2 linked regions of the Homo sapiens genome follow. The protein of the gene in region 2 interacts with the protein of the main gene of each other region in a pairwise test. Each region holds a gene or a part of one and is shown on either strand. Other genes may lie near its edges.

What was found.
Region 1: the proteins of CYBRD1 (region 2) and CASP6 interact in binary tests that used the Homo sapiens proteins (3 or more experiments, as listed by UniProt).

The regions. Positions count from the first base shown.
Region 1 is NC_000004.12:109,696,001-109,700,445, forward strand, and holds part of CASP6 (caspase-6 isoform alpha precursor), read right to left. Parts: intron 2,343-4,445; coding exon 2,300-2,342; intron 1,769-2,299; coding exon 1,622-1,768; intron 487-1,621; coding exon 410-486; intron 1-409.
Region 2 is NC_000002.12:171,538,442-171,543,833, forward strand, and holds part of CYBRD1 (plasma membrane ascorbate-dependent reductase CYBRD1), read left to right. Parts: intron 1-3,143; coding exon 3,144-3,352; intron 3,353-5,392. UniProt on the Homo sapiens protein: Plasma membrane reductase that uses cytoplasmic ascorbate as an electron donor to reduce extracellular Fe(3+) into Fe(2+).

The DNA.
Region 1 (4,445 bases), on a different chromosome or scaffold from region 2:
CTGTGAGAATTAAAGGAGGTAATGTATGTAAACCAACACTATTTGGAAACCAGTGAGAAAATGAGGCATGAAAGGAGTCAATGAGAAAATGAGCCTGTTGACTGCCCAGCACCTGTAGTACTTGCATTTTAGGCTTTTACTGCCAATTGAAGGGGTCATTTCATTCATTTCTACAAGAGACTGTAACTAGTGGTATGCTAAATATAAACTTTAGAGGCATAATTATTTGCAAGGGTCTCTAAATGTGCTGGGTAACGGAAACACAGCAGCATACCCAAAACCTGTAACCTGTGCTAAATTAATACTTTTTTTGTCACACAAGTAATTACTTGTACCTGTCTTTACAGATAGGATAAAGGACTCGGTTTCATTAGAGGAAGATGAACTATATGATAGCAAAACTACCTACCCTCATGAATTTTGAGCAGTAGTTCTTCTGCTTTAAGATCATTAAAGCATTTCACTTCAAATCCTAGATCTGAAAACCTAGTGGTATATTAAATGAAATGTTAGCCTATAAACTTTTCAAAGTTGTCAAATACCCTTACTTTGGAAGAATCTATACACATTTTAACGACACATAAATTTGCTTTCTTTAGGAGAAAAGAAATGAAATATAACAATGGTGGTTTTCCCTTCATTCACCATGGTCGGAAAGGATTTAATCATAATGACAGCCGATTCAATTTAGAGTGTTGTTGTCTACTATGCAAATGTTAGTACAAATGCAAAAGCCTGTCAACATTTAATAGAACAGAGTAAGGAAAATAACTCAGGCAAGTTTTTTTTTTTTTTTTTTTTTTGAGACAGAGGCTCACTCTGTCGCCCAGGCTGGAGTGCAGTGGCTTGATCTTGGCTCACTGCAAGCTCCGCCTCCTGGCTTCATGCCATTCTCCTGCCTCAGCCTCCCGAGTAGCTGGGACTACAGGCTCCCACCACCACGCCCGGCTAATTTTTTGTATTTTTTAGGAGAGACAGGGTTTCACCATGTTAGCCAGGATGGTCTCAATCTCCTGACCTTATGATCCACCCGCCTCAGCCTCCCAAAGTGCCGGGATTACAGGAGTGAGCCACCATGCCCGGCCAACTCAGGCAAGTTCTTAAGGGAGGCTGCATCAAAGCAAGGCCCATGCTCCAACACTCTTGATCTGTTGTTACCTCATTAGTGTTGACAAGTTATGATAAGTAACTTTTCCCTACATCTAGAAGTCTGGAATTTTTTTAATTTTTAATTTTTTTTAACTTTTCATTTGGAAACATGGAAAAAAATTATTTTATTTTTTATTTTAGAGACAAGGTCTCACTCTGTTGCCCAGCCTGGAGTGCAGTGGCATGATCACAGCTCCGTGCAGCCTTGAACTCCTGGGATCAAGCAATCCTCCCCCTTCAGCCTCCAGAGTAGCTGGGACTACCGCCACCATGCCCAGCTAATTGATTTTTATTTTTTGTAGAGACCAGGTCTCACTCTGTTGCCCAGACTTGTCTCAAACTCCTTGCCTTAAGTGATCCTCCCACCTTGGCTTCCCAAAGTGCTGGGATTACCAGCATGAACCACCACACCTGGCCAAAAGTAATTTTATCACTTAACTGCCTCATCTTGATAGGTAGATAAAACTACTACCTGCGGGTAAGATTGTCTCTATCTGCGCAGGTGCCCCGCCTTTCTGGCAGTGTTAAGTGCCAAAAGAACCTCTCATGATTGAAGATTAAAGCAATTCCTCTCCTCCTGTGGTCCATTTTGTACTTTTCTGCCGGATCAAACATTTCTCTGTTAATGAAAAGTTGAAAAACAATCACTTCAAGTCATATTAAATAATGAGCCCCTCCAAGTTCTAGGTCAACATGTAGATAGAGATCTGAGCTTCCTCCTTGCCAGGCTGATGTTCCATGGGTGTGCTCCAGGAAAGGCCATGCTAATAAGGAAAGTCCTGAAATATCTCTCTGCCAATTGGTAAAGAGCAGCCATGTGCCATCCTGACACATCCCTAACCCTCTGCCTTGATGTCTTTCCCCTGGCCCCCAGGATCCAGCAACCAGGAATAACCACGAGGCTCAGAACCAAGTTCTAGCTCTAGGCTCATGCCATGCCAATTAATATGCATTCTGAACATCACTCCGGGTCCCTCGACAACCAGGGGCAGCACAACCTGCCTATCTACAAATGAGCTCCCCAAAGGCTAAAACTTGGCCTACTCAGTTTTACTTCCTAGCTCCCAGGACCCATTCTTGCTTTGATTTCTGTAGGCTGATCATGACCATCAAAGGAAGAGACCTTTATTAGAAAAGAGCACAGCTTTACCTTTTATAGAAGGCATCTGTTTCTGTCATGTTTTCTTCCCCACCTATTAAAAAAAGTTGATTTTTGTTAATTATTTTTTACTTATGGCAGTAAAATATAGTAGGAACTCCCATCCCCCTTCTGACTCCCAAACTCTTAAGACCCTTCTGTTTTGGTTAGTTTAAAAGCCAAAGTATGTGAAGAAAAGGAAATGAAGGGAAACTGCTTACTAATAAACAAACTATAACAGCTCTATGCTTTCTCACCCCCAACTTGACCTGCAAAATAACAATCTTATAAACAGAAATGGAGAAAATATTACACAAATGCATTCACTGCAAAATATGCCTAGAGTAACAGTTCTGTGATTACGGAGTTGAAATATGAAGTTGCTTTGTTATGCAGAAAATGTTTTTGCACATTTTCTGAAAAAGAATTAAGTCCTACAGGAAAACTGAAATATAGTTTGTGGTTAATGCTGGATTAGCAGTGGTGTAAGCCTGGAAGAGGTAGAAGTTTGGGTGGAGGAAGGGAAGGGCAAGGGCAAAGACTTGGACCTTGGATCTCCTGCATGACACATCTGCATTTCCAACCCTGTAAGGGGAGCCCTCTGCTCTCCATTCTCAACTGGACTCCCTACTCCCTGGACAGCCTTCCACTGAATTCCTCTCTACTCTCTAGAGCAGTGCTATGTCATGGAAGTGTCTGTGATGGTGGAATTGTTCCGTATTTGCACTGTCTCATAAGGTAGCCACTGGCCACATGTGTCTACTGAGCATTTAAATGCAGCTAATGCAACTGAGGAACTCGATTTTATTGTCAATTTAAATGAATTGGCCAGTGGCTTCTACACTGGACAGTGCAAAGTGTGGCATCTTCTACAATAAAGGCCCCATCCACTCATGCATCTGTTTTTACCTGATAGCTCAACAGCTTAGAGGGGAGACAGCAATGAATAAACTGAAATATTAGCAGTATAGCAAGATGCACCCTTCAGTTGAGGAAGAATGACCCTAAAGCATGGACTCTTACCCATCATCTCCTAGCCAAAAGGGTTGGTTCCCCTCTCCTTAGAGATCTCCCCATTACTAGCCCCCATCACCTGATTGATCTAACCTCACTTCTCCTCAAAAAAAATACAAGGTGGGGAATTCAGTTCAAGTCCCTTTTAGCCTATTCCTCCTGGAACTGCCCCAAGCAATGAGACCCAACTAAGACCCCACACTAAGGCATCCTCTGTCTGTACGCCCTAAGTCAGTTTTGCTCAACCTTGGGCATCAGAATTCCTGGTGTGCATGTTAAAATGCAGATTCCTGGATCCTAACTGAGGCAGAATCAGAATCTTGGAGGAAGGAGGTGACAGCTGCATTTTTCACAAAGTGATTTTTACACTAAGGTGTGAGAGCCAAAAGCAACCTCTCCAACTGGTCCTCCCCGCTGCATGGCAGATGAGAAAGCTGTTTAATCCGACCTTTGCCCTAGGTGAGCACAGTAACGAGGTACTTCCTACTCCACACACTGCTCTATGAAGACAGCACAGGGATTTCACTCTTCCCATTTTCAAAAGCTGTCGGAATCTACTGCCTTTTGATAACCTCACCTGCTTATCTTTTAACCAATTAGAGTATAAAGAAACAATAACTTCAAGAAAATTAAATCCATATGTCACAACCATCCTCCTCACATGCCAAAATTCTGCACAACTTGGAAAGCACTCATGTCTCAGTGTCCTCCTCGGTGGCAGCAGGCCAGCGGCTCACCTCCTGTGGCTTCTGCTCCATACTGACTGCTGAGCCGAAGGCGGCTCACAACCTAACTCATGGAAGCTGTGCCAAATGGCTGCTCAGCAAACTAACTCATATCCCTCAGGGTGAAAACACTGGAGATGTATTCTTGCTTGGGTCTTTAAAACTCTTGTTTCTCATATTGCCAAAGAAGTAGCTTCCCAGTTGTTAGCTGACACATTAAAATTAATAACTTAAGATGTGAGTTTGGGTTGTCTCAAATATGCCCTCACATTAGTCAAGACCTACAGGTTTAGGAATGGCTAACTAGTATTAAGTAGCTGCTCAAGAAAATCTGTTTAAAATGACGTTCTGGCCGGGCATAGTGGCAAGCCTATAGTCCCGGTTACCTGGAAGGCCAAGGCAGGAGGATCTCTTGAGCC
Region 2 (5,392 bases):
AAGGTATTGCATTAAATCATTTGAAAAGATTCCTTGAATATAGAAATGATTATCCAAAAAGTCTCCACGTTCTCAAGGAAGTATAACCAATCGACATTCATAGGATACCCATATACACACTAAATTTAGTAAGTAGCAGTCCTTCAGGGTTGGGATTAAGTAAAAGAAATATTGTCCTAATGGTGAGGACTGTTAAGTGTTAGAATGGAACCAAAGAATAGGAAAAATGACATCCTGTGCTGAAAGCTTTAAAGAGGCTGAATTCACATCGGTCTTTGTAGGTTTAGATGTGTTTCTGTCTGAAAAAGGAATAGATAATCCCTTATATTTTTATAATCCTATGAAGTTCTTGGGTGTTTGTTTGTTTGTTTTTTGAGACAGAGTCTCATTCTGTTGCCCAGGCTGGAGTGCAATGGTGCGGTCTTGGTTTACTGCAACCTCCGCCTCCCGAGTTCAAGCGATTCTCCTGCCTCAGCCTCCCAAGTAGCTGGGATTACAGGTGCCTACCACCACGCCCGGCTAATTTCTGTATCTTTAGTAGAGACTGGGCTTCATTATGTTGGCCAGGCTTGTCTCGAACTCCTGACCTCAGGTGATCCACCTGCCTTGGCCTCCCAAAGTGCTGAAATTACAGCACCGAGTGGCTCACTGAGCGCAGTGAGCCACTGCGCCTGGCCTGAAGTTTTATATATTAAAATTATAAAAGCCTTTGGTGAAGTGAGGCTCCTTTTTATTTTCTGGAATTAAGAAATGTACATGAGGCCAGGCACTGTAGTTCATGCCTGTAATCCCAGCACTTTGGGATGCTGAGGCGGGTGGTGCACTTGAGCCCAGGAGTTCAAGACCAGCCTGGGCAACATGATGGAATCCCATCTCTGCTAAAAATAGAAAAAATAGCAGCGTGTGGTGGTGCATGCCTGCAGCCCCAGCTACTCAGGAGACTGAGGTGGGAGGATCACCTGGTCCCAGGAGGTCAAGGCTGCAGTGAGCTGTGATCGCAACACTACATTCCAGCCTGGGTGACAGAGAAAGAAAAGAAAAGAAATATACGTGATACCCTGCTGATATAGTGGAATCCATCGTCTGAGGAAGTATTCTATAAACTTTTTCAATCTGCCACACATTTCCAGATATCTAAATTTTCCCTGACACAGACTGGAGGGATGGATAGGGGCAGGATTTTATCTTCAGAACAAAAATTAACTGAATGTTGGTTAAGGTGGCCATATAATTTATTGCTTAAACCAGGACACTTAAGACAACCCTTTGTAAAAAAACTTTTGTTTTCTTTTTTTTTTTTTCCCCGAGACGGAGTCTTGCTCTGTCACCCAGGCTGGAGTGCAGTGGCATGATCTCAGCTCACTGCAACCTCTGCCTCCCAGGTTCAAGCGATTCTCCTGCCTCAGCCTCCCAAATAGCTGAGATTACAGGTATGCACCACAATGCCTGGCTAATTTTTTTGTATTTTTAGTAGAGACAGGGTTTCACCATGTTGGTCAGGCTGGTCTTGAACTCCTGACCTCAAGTGATCTGCCCACCTCGGCCTCCCAAAGTGTTGGGATTACAGGCGTGAGCCACCGCGCCAGGCCATAAAAAACTTAATTGGAGTTTGTTCTACATGCAGAATGATGAATCTTCTGTCTATGACACCTGTGAAACCAGCACCTAGATTGAGAAACAGAATGTTAGTAGGAGTCTTCAAAATCCCTTGTGTGTTCCATTGTAATTGCTGTATCCTTCCCCACGAAGGCAACTACTATCCTGACTTTTCCAATGCAGAGATGAGTTTTGCTGGTTTCTATACTTCATATAAATTGAATTACACTATATACTTGTTAACGTCTGGCTTCTTGAGATTGACATTATAGGTTGATCCATATTACTGGGTCTAGTTCTAGTTGTAGATCGTTTCTTTCCATGGTGTAAATTTATTTATTCATTCTATTGATGATGGGCATTTGGGGGAGTTTCCAGGTTTTGGTTACTATAAATAGTACTGCTAATAATATTCTAGTATCTTTTGATGATCATATAAATATTTCTTTTTGGCATATACCCGAGAGTGAAATTGCTGGACAATAAGGTATGCATAACTTTACCTTAAGTAGATACTGCCAGTTTTCCAAAGTTTTGTTCTCATTAAAGCACTCATCAGCAGAACATTAGAGTTCTGACTGCTGTATATTCATTTTGATACTTGGTGTTTTCCAGGTTTAGCCATTCAGATATGTGGTAGAGGTATTCTCATTCGGCTTAAATTTGTATTTCTCTATTGCATGGTTTAAATTTGCATGTTTTTCTGTTCCTTTCTTTTTCTTATCAAACTAAGACTTTTTTTTTTTTTTTTGTCTTCCTCTGTTGCCCAGGCTGGAGTGCAGTGGCGCAATCTCGGCTCACTGCAACCTCTGCCTCCCGGGTTCAAGCGATTCTCGTGCCTCAGCCTCCAGAATAGCTGGGATTACATGTGCATGCCACCCCATGCCTGGCTAATTTTTGTATTTTTAGTAGAGATGGGGTTTCACCATGTTGGCCAGGCTGGTCTTGAACTGCTGACCTCAAGTGATACCCCGCCTCAGCCTCTCAAAGTGCTGGGATTACAGGCATGAGCCACTGGGCCCGGCCAAACTGAGACATTTTTAAGAAGAAAGGAGACAACAGGCATAAATCAGATTGTTAAGATTAGGAATTTGGTTTTGGATAAGTTTGAGATGTCTGGGAAGCAAACGCCGTACGGAAATACCAAGAAGACATTGGATTATGCAGATCTGAAGCTTAGAAGACAGTTCTGGGCTGGAGATATAAATTTTTTGGAGTCCCTGCCATGGAGACAGCATTTCAGTGAAAGAGTGAATGAGATCACCCACAAGAGGGAGTGCAGAGGGAGAAAAAGCCCTAGGACCGAGCCTGAGAGGCACCAAGGTTCATTCACAAGTTGGGAGTGAAGAAAATGCCAGCAAAGGAACTCCTCCACCGTCCCCTAGAGGGAGCCACTGAGAGGCAGGGGTAACATGGGGAAGAGGGGAGAAGCAAAAGCCAAGGGAAAAAGGTTTCAAAAAGGGAGTGTCCAGTGTGTCAAACTGTTCATTTTGTGTTGTTTAAAAAACAAAACAAAACACATTCTGTGTCCTTTCGTCTTTCCCTAGCCATCATCGTCTACAGACTGCCGTGGACCTGGAAATGCAGCAAGCTCCTGATGAAATCCATCCATGCAGGGTTAAATGCAGTTGCTGCCATTCTTGCAATTATCTCTGTGGTGGCCGTGTTTGAGAACCACAATGTTAACAATATAGCCAATATGTACAGTCTGCACAGCTGGGTTGGACTGATAGCTGTCATATGCTATTTGTTACAGGTCAGTATTTCAGTGTATTTACAAGCAAGTTATAAAAACAATTCAGAGACTGTAAATGTTTTCTTTTCTTTTTTTTTTTTTTTTTTTTTGAGACAGAGTCTCGCTTAGCCACCCAGGCTGGAGTGCAGTGCTGCGATCTTGGCTCACTGCAACCACTGTCTCCAGGGTTCAAGTGATTCTCCTGTTTCAGCCTCCCAAGTAGCTGGGATTACAGGTACCCACCATCGTGCCAGGCTAATTTTTGTATTTTAGTAGAGATGGGGTTTCACCATGTTGGCCAGGCTAGTCTTGAACTCCTGACCTCAGGTGATCCGCCTGCCTCAGCCTCCCAAAGTGCTAGGATTACAGGTGTGAGCCACCGCGCCCAGTGACTGTAAATGTTTTCTAAACATTCTTTACATTTGTTTCTATTATAACTATTTTCCCCTCAGAGAGCACCAGAATTGCAGAATTCACAGAACAAAATAATAAGAAATAAAGATTTCTTATACTGGATATGACTTTTAATCTGGATTCTCTAAAAACCAACTTATACTCTGCTCTATATCTTAATATGTAAAATTAAGAAATATCAGGCTGGGCATGCTGGCTCATGCCTATAATTCCAGCATTTTCGAAGGCCGAGGTGGGAGGATCATTTGAGCTCCGAAGTTCAAGACCAGACTGGGCAACATAGGGAGACTGTCTCTACAAATAAAGGAAAGACAGAGAGAGAGATCGAGAGAGAGAGAAATCAAGAGAGAGACTGATCTAACAATTAGCAATAAAGAGAATACCTATTTAAAAATCTGTGGGTCCTGGCTGGGCATAGTGCACTGCTCACTCCTGTGATCCCAGCACTTTGAAAAGCTGAGACCAGTGGATCGCTTAAGCCCAGACGTTTGAGATCAGCTTGGGCAACATGGCGGAACCTCATCTCTAAAACAAAAACACAAAAATTAGCTGGGCAGGGTGGTGCACACCTGTTGTCCTGGCTACTTGGGATGATGAGGTGCACAGCTCCCTTGAGACCAGGAGGCAGAGGTTACAGTAAGCTGAGATTATACCATTGCACTCCAGCCTGGGCAACAGAGCCAGACCCTGATCTCAAAAAAATAAATAAATAAAAATCTTTGGGGTTTAATTAAAATGGTTCCCAGAGGAATATAGGCTTAAATGCTTTTATTATATTTTTTGGAAAGAAAACTTAAAATACATAAGCTATTTACTTAGGTAACTATAAGGGAACAGCAAAATATACCAGGAAAAGTAAATCAATAAAGGTAAAAAAAAATCCATAAATAATTCATTTTCTATTGTGGTAACCAATTACCACAGACTTAATGGCCTGAAACAACATAAATTTATGACCTCACAGTACCTGTACATCAGAAGTCCAGATTGGCTTGTCTGGTTTCTCTGCTCTGGGTCTAACAAGGCCAGTATCAAGGTGTCAGCCTTCCAGGGCTCTGATTGGGAGACTAGGGTAGAATCAGCTTAAAGCAAATTCAGCTTGATGGCAGAGTCCAGGTCCTTGTATGTGCAGGACTGAGGTCCCTGTTCCCTTGCTGGCCATCAGCTGGGGCTGCCCTGAACCTTGGAGTCCTCTCTTCCTTGTACCCGGCTCCCTTCATCTCCCTACCAGCAATGGACATCCAGTCCATCTCGCTGGCTTGGAAACTCTCTGACTTCTCCTTCTCCTTCCTCCTCATCTCTTCTCCTCAACCAGATAAAGTTCTTACCTACCCCAACCCCTAGAGGTTACCATTCTCCCGGTGTTTATTCTCATTCTCTGCTTTTTAAAATACTTTAATCACATACTGTGAATCAATATATTGATTAAACAAGATGTTTAATTAAATAATATTGATTAATTAAACAAGATGTTTAAATATTGATTAATTAAATCATATATTGTTTAATTTTGCTTTTTAAATGAAACTTTTTTTAAAAAATGGTCTCATATATATTCTATTGCAACTTTTTTTTAACTCTACTGATTAAACTGTATTGATTCCTCTGGCTATAGTTCATTCATTTTTACTTTTGTATTCCACTGTA